Linked DNA regions of Homo sapiens: region 1 is linked to region 2. The links come from fine-mapping of genetic effects on plasma protein levels. Region 2 holds a variant in brackets. A gene starts in the other region. All regions are shown on their reverse strands.

Region 1 (5,370 bases), not on the chromosome of region 2:
AGTATCATATAGTATCACTCTAGCATAGTGGCTCAGCTCATGGGATTTAGAGTGGCCAACTCACAGCCCTTGGGCAAGCTAGTAAATACACTGAAGCCTCAGTTTCCTCATCTACAAAACAGAAATAACAGGACCTAACTCACAAGGGTCCTTCCAAGGATTACATTTAATTAGATGATCCATGGAAAGAGCTGAGATTCATGCCTGGCAGTAAGTATTCAATAAATATTAGCTATTATTGCTATTAAATGTGAGCCAACACATTCTAAAAGTCAACATACGCAGATTACTTCAGCCTCTATAAAAATGTCAGTAAAGATCAATAACCTAGCCAGCTCACAATCATTCACGTGACTTAGGTGAGAACCATGTAAGTTAACTTTCTCACAAGAAAGGGCTAAACTTTGTTTCATTACTTACATTACCTACTCAGCCCAGCCTGACAGCCAAAAGAACACATTCCATATTAAAGATCCCACCTTCCTCTAGCAAGGTCAAAAGGACTTCTTACATCCTCACCTGCACATCCTTTCTTTGCTCCTGTATCCCAAAGAAACATGTCTATACTGTGGCTTTCTAAACTGCAGGCCTCACCTCCTCCCTCTTTTAAAATCGTGATAGGTTGGTTAAACGTACTTAAGAAACACTCCAACCCCTGACAATTCTCTGCGCCCAGTCTTCCACAACCCCCAGCTCAGAAGTCACCTCCTCTGAGAAATTTCCCCACCCTCAGACAAAATTAACTCCCCTATACTTCAAAGCATTTTGGGTACACATATGCCCCAGTAGTTACCTTATAATTAACTAATTATGTCTCCCCCAATAGACTGAATTGAGAGCAAGGGAGTGTTATGGTTACAGGATCAGCTCTAGCACCAAGCACAGTGGTTGGCACATATCTGGTGCTCAAGAAATGCCATACTTTAAACCAGATTCTCTCCTGGCTGAGTACCATCTCCTGCTGGATGCCCCACTTCAAACTCTGAACATAAGGTTGCTCTCAGTAGAGCAGGCTAACATGATGGACTGCTGATTACAACATTAGAAAACCTACTCATCAACTTCTCCCATTGGAGAGGTTCCCGGAACCCAAACTCAATTGAGCAGGATTATGTACCATCAAAATCAGTGGGAATTCCCAGCACACTACAGAAGGTAACTTCTCCTTCAACAGGGTTGTTCGAAAGCCTGCAAGGATGAGCTTTTTATTGGAGGACTCTTCCCTGGGTAACTGAAGTGGAAATACAGTAAGAATAAATGCCTTGATTTGGCTGAAAAGGGTTCAAAAACATAAAGAATTGGGAAAAAAAAAAAAAGCCAGTTCTTGATTCCTGAAAAACAGTGGCTCGTGAAAAAGAATGAACAGGAAGCAGGGGTGGGTACTGGACACTCTTTGCTTCAATAAATAAAATCTTTTTTTCCTCCTTACAACCCAAACGAAAAGGCCAACACACCAGGTCCACAAGAGATGCTCAACAATCTTTCCTTCCAACAAGTACACTAAACTGCGTTTCCAGAAAAACACTGCATTGGGAACCTCGACCACAATGAAAAGTTCCAGTGACTAACATAATTTTTTAAAAATCCAACATTTACATTGGGTGACCCACAGAGAACTTGCAAACTTTCTTTAGGGAGGTACTGCTACCTTTGCAAAGAACGTAACTTGGGAAAAACAACCTGGAAATATAAAGAACTCCACAAAGCGTGGCTTTAGTTTTAGAGCCATAATTCCTATCATAAACAGCCTATCAAAAAAAAAATTAACAGTTGCTTAAGGAAATCTTTCATTCTGGAAGCAGAAAAGGAAACAAACATGAAGCATAAAGGGAATAACCCCCAAAATAAAGTTTAAAAAATAATAATTCAGTCCCCCAGCCTTCCCTCTCTGGTGAAGTATGTGATTTATACGGCTTTGCTCTGCAGAAAGCTCATTCTGGGCAGCTCAAGGAAAGAGCCGAGGGAGGGAGAGAAAGAGACACAGGCACAGAAAGGAGAGGAGAGAGAAAAAGAAAATGGCGCAGAGACTAAGTCCCGACCGTCGACAAGGCGACTTTCCCGGGAGGAATCCCGGCCCGGAAAGACCGCCCGAGGCCCGGTGGCGGACGACACGGGGTCTCCGTTGTCCCCTCTTGGGAGGGCCGGGATCTGGAGGAGCTGGGGTCCCCGGAAAGGGGGTCAAGAGGCGGCCCGATGGGAACAATGGGGCCGGTGAGCGAGGAGCCGGGACTTAGTCTCTGGGACGCCATGTCTGTCCTCTGCCCGGCACCGGCAGGGCGCGGGGGAGGCGGCCGGCGGCTGGGGGGCCCCGGAGTCGGCGCAGGGGGCACACTCACCATTCAATCGGAAATCCGCTTCGATCTGGAAAAAGAAAAGGAGAGAATATCAAACAACAGCCACTTTAACCCCTCCGGCGGCGAGCGCGCGCGGCCGGGGTCTGGCTCACCCTGCGCCCCCGGGGAGGACGGGGACCCGGGGGTGGCCACAGAGGGCAGCCATCCCTGCCTCGAACTGTAACTTCGCGGCCCTCGCTCGCGGCCTAGCGAGCCGATCTACTCCGGCAGGCGGCCCCTCACCGGGGGCTCCGGCCTGTCAAAGCTGCCGGGCCGGGGCTGGGGTCGGGGCCTGCGCCGGGGGTCGCGGGACGGCCAGGCCGGGGTCCGGGGCCGCCAGGGTCAGGCCGGGCCGTACCTGGGAATCGTTGTGGAGGTGGTCCCCACTCATGTCGGCCCGGAGGGACGAGCGCGGCGGCAGGCGAGGCGGCGTGGGGGAGACGCAGACGGCGAACCGGCCTGTGCGGGCGGACGGGGACTCCGGAGGCTCGAGGAGGCGCAGGTAAGCGGCGGTGACTGTGGGCCCGAGACTCCAGAAACGGCTGAGGCTGCTACCACGGCGGCGACGCTGCCTGACTGCCGGGCGGGCGGCGAGAACAGACCCCAGCAGTTGTGTAACAGCCTAAGTTCGCATTTGGGCTCACTGCGCCTGCGCGGCCGCTTTTAAACAACACGTCGGCGACGTCAGCGCTCGCGGAAAGAGGCAGAGGGTTGCGGCCCGCCCCCTCGCTGTTCGCCAGACGGACCTGTCTTTGCATCGCAAGCCCCGCCTCCGGACCGTGCGCGCTCCGCTGTGATTTGCATAAGGAGCCGACTCCTCCCACGGCGTCCCACCCCAAGCAGCCTCCCCTTCCTCTCCAGACGCTTTTTCTCGGAACCCCAGCCCCTCTGCTAGGCAGTGCGCAGGCGCCACCCGGGCACCGCCTCCGGACCAGGGCTGGCCGCGCAGCCACGTGGTGGGCCTTTAAAGGCCGCGGCGGGACCCAGCAATCTTGGGCAGAGCTGGTATCCGGCGTCCGCATCTCCTTGGAGCGGCGAGTACCTTGGCAGCTGGGACCCCAGAGGTCTCCCCAGCGCCTCCTTTCTTGCTAAGCCGACCCTGAGGCCGCCTGGTGGGAGGAGTCCCCTCCCCAGCCTTTGTCCAGGCCCTCCAACTTCTGGATTATTTCACGCCCACTTTTTAAAAATTATTTTAATTTTTCAACCAACCAAGGGTCCGGTTTAACCCCAGTTTTCCGCCGAGTACATGTAGCCCTGGGTCACCAAGGGTCTGATTTCTTTGGTTCATTCTACAAATACTTATTGAGCATCCGCTATGAGCCCAGGAATTGTGCTGAGGGAAGGGGGAATGCAAGAGACCAAAGGGAACTGAACCTGTCTCTATCCGCCCCTGTATCCCTGGCATGCTGGGAGGACGGGGCAAATGGGGAATAGAACTACCGTTTATAGAGCATCTATTCTGTGCCCAGCTCTGAATTCTCACAATAGCTCTGTGAGGTCGCCTGTATTACAAAAGTCAAACTGTCCTAAAGACAAGGGACCAACAGCCAGCTACCTTGCATCTATAGTTGGATACCTCTCAAGCTTCTCTGGGAATGAACTGAACTCCACTCAGCTAGAAAAAGCCCCATCCTGACACCTTCCTTTCCCTCATTTCCCACTAGTCCCGCTGATTGCATCTCTTTGCTTCATCTACTTCTCTCTGCTGCCCATAAGCCTTTGAAGTCTGCGTTCTCCTGCTTGGATTAATACAATGTGCTGGCTGGGGGTGGTGTCTCACACTTGTAATCTTAGCACTTTGGGAGGCCGAGGCTGGCAGATCACTTGAACCCAGGAGTTCAAGACCAGCCTGGGCAACATGGCAGAACCCTGACTCTACAAAAAAATACAAAAACTGGCGGGGTGTGGTGGCATGTGCCTGTAGTCCCGGCTACTCGGGAGGCTGAGGTGGGAGGATCACCTGAGCCCGAGGAGGAGGTCGAGGCTGCACTGCACTCCAGCCTGGGCAACAGAGTGAGACCTGGTTTAAAAAAAACAAAAAACAAACCAACAAAAAACACCGCACTCCAAAACACTACACTTCTAACAGGGATTGCTGCTTCCATTCTTGGCCCTCTCGTAAACTGCATTCCAACAATTGCCAAAGTGATCTTCTCAATATGCTAATCTAACCATTACTCCTTTGTGGATATTGCCACATCTATTACCACTTTCACTATTATTATTTCATATTTTAATTGATCTCCTTTTTATTTACCTTCATCCTAAGTGTTATCTGTGAAATAATATCTATGAAATCATTTGGAAGTAAATATGAAAACTGTTCATCCAGTGGACCATCAGTATCTTTATCACATCTAATGTTTACCATCACATGTTTACCATTAGATGTGTTTACCACATCTTGTGAATGCTTCAAGATCAACCTAAATATCACTTTTTCAAAGTGACTCTCCGGCGCACTACTGACCCTGCTTCCACTGGCTGACCAAGGGTGCCTTATAGGCCAGGCGCGGTGGCTAACGCCTGTAATCACAGCACTTTGGGAGGTCAATGTGGATCAATCACTTGAGGTCAGGAGTTCAACAACAGCCTGGCCAACATGGTGAAACCCTGTCTCTACTAAAAATACAAAAATTAGCAGAGTGTGGTGGTTCACACCTGTAATCCCAGCTACTCGGGAGGCTGAGGCAGGAGAATCGCTTGAACCTGGGAGGCAGAGGTTGCAGTGAGCCGAGACCGCACCACTGTACCCCAGCCTGGGCAACAGAGCGAGTGAGTCTCAAAAAATAAATAAACAAATAAAAATAAAAGGTGCCTTATAGTATCTATCTCCTTTGTAACACTTATGACACTTGTTATTAAGTTACAAATGTAGTAATTGGTTTCCTGTCTATTTCCCCTATAGCAAGCAAGGTCTGTGAGAGGGGGGAATCTTGTCCATCTTGCCTACCACTGAATTCCCAGCACCCAGCAACAGGCCCTCCTACAGAAGAGGTGCTCAAGAAATGGGCAAATCAAAGCAGGTTACCCTGCT
Region 2 (5,370 bases):
TAGAAATAGCAATGGAGACACAGTTCTTTTACAAAGTGATAAAGAAGTTTATTTTGCGACTGATCAGAGGACAATCTAATTCCCATAGGCAGAGTAGAGACTGTAGATTTGCTCTTGGAAAAACTAAGCCACCATATGTAGGGCAAAGATTGAGAGTTCATCCAGCCATTGCATTAGAGTACAAACTCTCTCAAATTTTGCCCTACATGTGTGTCATTCAATAAATGTTAAATCATCAAAAAGTAGAACTAGGATTTCCTTCTACTTGTGCAACTGCCCAGAACTATGTTCCATGCTCCTCCCACCCCTACCTCCTTACACACCCAAACACACCGGTACATATACACTCCACGTACTCAGGCCTACCCCAGATTCATTACTAACACATTTCTAGGCCTCTAGGCAGTCAACAACTTTGAGCTATAACATCAGTCTTTTTCCCTCATCCCTACCACCCATTGAGTACAGAGCTGAGGAAGGATGGGTCAGAGGAAAAAAGGATTCTTGGAACTCCTCCCTCCCCTTATGAAAATCTCATGGAGAGTGATGAGATTACCTTCCTAAATCTAATTAAAAACAACCCCTCCAAAGTTGTCAGAGGTGGGAGAAGGTGGCCTAGGAGCAGCAAGCAGCCCCCTCTCTAACACCCTGGGACAAATGGCTCTGGGATTAGCCATGCATGGTGGCGAGCACCTGTAGTCCTAGTTACAGGAGGCTGAGGTGGGAGGGTTGCTGGATTCCAGGAATTCAAGGCTGCAGTAAGCTATGAATGTGCCACTGTGCTCGAGTGTAAGTGAGAGAGCAAGACCTTGTCTCTGAAAAAAAAAAAAAAAAAAAAAAAAAAAGAAAGGAAGGAAGGAAAAAACAAAAATGAGTGGCTCAGGGATTAATGCCCAGTAGCCAAGCTGAGGCCAGGCTGAAAAGGCTGCAAGTCTTTACTAAATAGGAGACAAACATAGGAAAGGAAATGTATAGTGACAGTAAACTGGATAAGCTAGGTGACAAGATAAAACCATAGTCTTCTTCGGTTTTCGGGTATCCACAGAAGTTTATGTGAATTCTTCCAAAAAACCCAGAGAGAGATAAAATTTATTTCTCCTATGTAGCTAAGGTCGCTTGAATAATTGACCCTAGGAACATCTACACCTGCACGCAGAAGTACGACCTTGTGCTAAACAGAATAATCTTTATGTTCACATAACACATACACTAGATGTGTGGCTTTTTAAAAAGAAAAATGTCTCTGAACTTTTTAATATAATATTTAAATATAATTTGGTTAATGAGGCCTACTAATTTAATATAATAATTTAATATAATTTGGTTAATGCGGCCTCCTATGGTCAAAATTTAATGCATCCCTCATCTGCATAGCCCTTTAACACGTACTTGTGATAGCATGTTATAGGTCTGACCAAGCCTGAGCTTGAGATATTGACCATCTTAATAGTGAGTCTTTTTTTTTTGAGTTGGAGTCTTGCTGTGTCAGCCAGGCTGGAGTGCAGTGGTGTGATCTCGGCTCACTGCAACCTCCACCTCCTGAGTTCAAGCAGTTCTCCTGCCTCAGCCTTCCAAGTTGCTGGGATTACAAGTACGTGCCACCACGCCCAGCTGTTTTTTGTATTTTTAGTAGAGACGGGGTTTCACCATGTGGGCCAGGCTGGTTTCGAACACCTGACCTCAAGTGATCTGCCCGCCTCAGCCTCCCAAAGTGCTGGGTTACAGGCATGAGCCACCACGCCTGGCCGAGTCTTTTTTTTTTTTTTTTGAGATGGAGTTTTGCTCTTGTCACCCACGCTGGAGTGCAATGGCGGAACCTCAGCTCACTGCAAACTCTGCCTCCCAGGTTCAAGCGATTCTCCTGTCTCAGCCTCCTGAGTAGCAGGGATTACAGGCATGAGCCACCACACCTCACTGATTTTTGTATTTTTAGTAGAGACAGGGTTTCGCCATGTTGGCCAGGCCGGTCTGGAACTCCTGACCTCAGGTGATCCACCTGCCTCGGCCTCCCAAAGTGCTGGGATTACAGGCATGAGCCCCCAAGCCTGGCCTTAATGGTGGCTCTTGATTTGCATTTATTACATAGTAATAGCACATTGAAATATGGGGAAGACGAATTTCAAAGATTGTCCAGGTAGATCAGGAATCAGACTAGCTTTGTCCTAGAAGGCTTCCTAAAGGAGGATGCATGTTTAAAAAAATAAATAAATAAAGGAACAGGAAGCACAACTTGGTAGGAAAACCTAAGGAAACTGTTAACCCTGGTTCTCTCTTCCTGCCCTTTTTGCTTCTAGTCTTTCCTACAGTGGTCAGCACCAGCTTTATCCAGCATGAAGTCGTGGAAGAGTATAGCCACCTGTTCACTATCCAAGGCTCGGACCCCAGCTTGCAGCCCTACCTGCTGATGGCTCACTTTGATGTGGTGCCTGCCCCTGAAGAAGGCTGGGAGGTGCCCCCATTCTCTGGGTTGGAGCGTGATGGCATCATCTATGGT[C/T]GGGGCACACTGGACGACAAGAACTCTGTGATGGTCTGAGATGCAATGTTCCCTCTGCCTTGGGGCCCTAAAGATCAATCAGGATGGGGGTGCTTGGCTGACCCTGGGAGGTGGGAGATAATGGTAAAAAGAATCTTGGCTCCAGGAGACCTGGGTTCCAGCCATCAGTTTGTCACTTCCCTTCTCTGGGCCTTGATTTCTCAGCTGTAAATGGGATTGAATGGTCCCCAGGGACCCTTTCAGTCCTGACACTGATATGTTTATGCTCTTCTCCAGGTGGTAAACGTTCTGTTTCTCCGCATCAGGTCCCCTGTACCATTTGAATCTGTTCTCTTTCAAGAGAATCTATCACATCCTCATCCCACCAGCCCTGATAACAGGCAACTGAATGTCTCTGATACCCTGGTATTCCCACCTAAATAACGTCTTTTTCCTCTTCCATTGTGCTTCTGAACCCCAGGCATTACTGCAGGCCTTGGAGCTCCTGCTGATCAGGAAGTACATCCCCCGAAGATCTTTCTTCATTTCTCTGGGCCATGATGAGGAGGTAGAGCCTCCTCACCTTATACCTATCTCTGTCCTCTGTTGAGGGTAGGGGAGTGGGTGCTTAACCCTAGTCCAGTTTGCCCACAGCAGCAAGGTCTCCATGATACGGTAGTTTGCCAACTTCTCCGTGTGTCTGTATGCCAGGACTATCTAAGGACCTTGACCAAAATTCAGATTCCTGGGCCCTGTGCCCTAGATCTGAATTTTTAACAAACTCCTTCATAATATCTGAGGCAGGCAGTGGGTCCATCACCTATACCCTAAGAAACATACGTGTGATGGAAAAAGAACTGAAAAGGGAGAGTGATGACTGCGTTTTATTTCCAATGATGCTACTTACTTAGACCCTGGGCAAGTCACTTCACTCTTTTGGCTCCAGTTTCTTCATTTGTGAAATAAGGGAGGGTGAGGCCTGCCAGCTCTGACATTCCAGAATTCTGTAAGGCAGGATTCTCTAGGGCCCTGGCTCCCAGGAAGGAGACTAGGTAGAAAGGTTCTGGAGCCCCTAGCTAGGCTGAATAGGTCCCCATTAGCTATGTCTGGAGGTCTGTCTCTGGCTGAGAAGGACTATAGCTCTATGTTCCATGTCTGCAGTCATCAGGGACAGGGGCTCAGAGGATCTCAGCCCTGCTACAGTCAAGGGGCGTCCAGCTAGCCTTCATTGTGGACGAGGGGGGCTTCATCTTGGATGATTTCATTCCTAACTTCAAGAAGCCCATCGCCTTGTGAGTAAAGCATCCCACCCCACACCTTGGAGGGAATTCTCACCCCATTTGAGATGACCCCAGCCTGGTATCTGTGAGCCATGCTGAGACAACTCTTTGTGTACACCTCTCGCATTAATCGCCCCAATCTTTAACCTCTCCTAGGCTTCCCCTTCCATTCTTCCTCCAGTATAAAATTTTTAAAGCAGCATGAAGCTACCTCCTTGCCCACTAGACTATTGCACAGATGGACCTATGGGCCTATGGGAGAATTCAGAGAGGCAAGAAGTCAGGAGAGTGGTTTCCGATCCTCTTCTACAGGATTGCAGTCTCAGAGAAGGGTTCCATGAACCTCATGCTGCAAGTAAACATGACTTCAGGCCACTCTTCAGCTCCTCCAAAGGAGACAAGCATTGGCATCCTTGCAGCTGCTGTCAGCCGGTAAGCAACTCCTGGCCCTGTTCCCATGCCAGACTTGAGATGGAAGCCCTGGCACTTTCCCACTTTAAATTTGAGGAGGCTAAGCTTCCTGCCCTAAAGTTGGGCTGGGAAACTATGCTATAAAAAATTGACACTAGAGGAAGAACAGAAGGGGAAGCCCAGGACAGACTAAAGATCCAGGTGATTAATACAACAGGTGTAAATAAAGAGTTATCTCAGCATGGCTCACAGATACCAGGCTGGGGTCATCTCAAATGGAGTGAGAATTCCTTCCAAGGTGGGGGTTGGGGGAGCCACAGGAGAGACAGAGCCACCAGTATCCTGCAAGGGCTGGAGTCAGAAGAGGATCTGTCAGTATATCCATATGGAAAGCAAGGACCTACAGGCAGAAGCTAGGTCAGGCAGCTAGAGTAGTCCAGAGTCCAGACATTTAGAATCACAAATTGGCAATGACTGGTAGAGCTGTCGAAATTCTCCACCTGTCCTGGCAGGAGGACAAAAATAAATAAGAGTTGCTGGCTATGAATGAGGACAGCAGAATCTGTAACAGCAGAGCTTACTCCTGGCTGGGTTTTCTTAGCAAAGTGGGAAGGAGTGCTATATTCATTCAAATTGTCAGGAGACTGACAATTCTGCTGTAGTATGGGATGGGCTATGAGAGTGGACACACAGGATTCTAGAGAACAGCAGAGGGAGGAAAGAAGGACCCTAATGCAGACTTGGTAGACAGGGAAAGCTCCTGGGGATGTTTTGAGATCTTCAGAATGTTGAGTTGGTGGAGGTGGGAGGGAGGTGAATGAGAGACCTCTTGGCCAGGAGCGTTGAAACTTCCTCCTATCTCCCTTCTTCTCCTCTTCAAGCCACTGATCTTTGGCTGGGGTTCGCTAAGTCTTGAGGACTCTGTTTCTCTTCCAGATTGGAGCAGACACCAATGCCTATCATATTTGGAAGCGGGACAGTGGTGACTGTATTGCAGCAACTGGCAAATGAGGTATGGGAAGAAGTATCACATACTCCTAATCAGCTAGGAACAAAAGACGGACAGAAAAGTAACCTTTAGAGTAAGAAAAGGACCCTAGTACTGTCCAGCACTCTGCCTATTCTCACCTATTCCCAGCCAGTGGCTGAGCCAAGACACAGGGATCTGGCTTGTTCTCTACGGCTGTTAGTGTGTTTCTGAGACCC

Alleles and levels. Alleles are on the strand shown, and positions count from the first base shown. The strength of an association depends on the size of the effect and on how common the allele is.
As copies of C replace T in region 2, the plasma level of the protein whose gene starts at base 2,970 in region 1 goes up (strong association).

Evidence for each region. PIP is the posterior inclusion probability: the model's chance that the variant is causal. Protein levels are from antibody-based Olink assays in UK Biobank. Linkage for the fine-mapping came from a reference panel and not from the study's own genotypes, which makes the PIPs less certain.
Region 1: it holds the start of TOP1, and the variant in region 2 is fine-mapped to the plasma level of the TOP1 protein (UK Biobank, PIP above 0.99).

Annotation. Positions count from the first base shown.
Region 1 is chr20:41,026,422-41,031,791 of GRCh38, reverse strand. It overlaps TOP1 (DNA topoisomerase I), which reads right to left and starts at 2,970. Exons shown (of 21, transcript NM_003286.4): 1 at 2,692-2,970; 2 at 2,337-2,361. The coding sequence starts at 2,724. RefSeq lists silencers at 2,630-2,699, 2,920-3,271.
Region 2 is chr1:205,842,482-205,847,851 of GRCh38, reverse strand. It overlaps PM20D1 (peptidase M20 domain containing 1), which reads left to right. Exons shown (of 13, transcript NM_152491.5): 3 at 2,295-2,527; 4 at 2,955-3,041; 5 at 3,635-3,765; 6 at 4,066-4,185; 7 at 5,101-5,176. Among named protein-coding and RNA genes, the nearest start is that of PM20D1, 5.0 kb to the left of the region's middle. The variant C/T (reference allele first, on the strand shown) is at 2,495.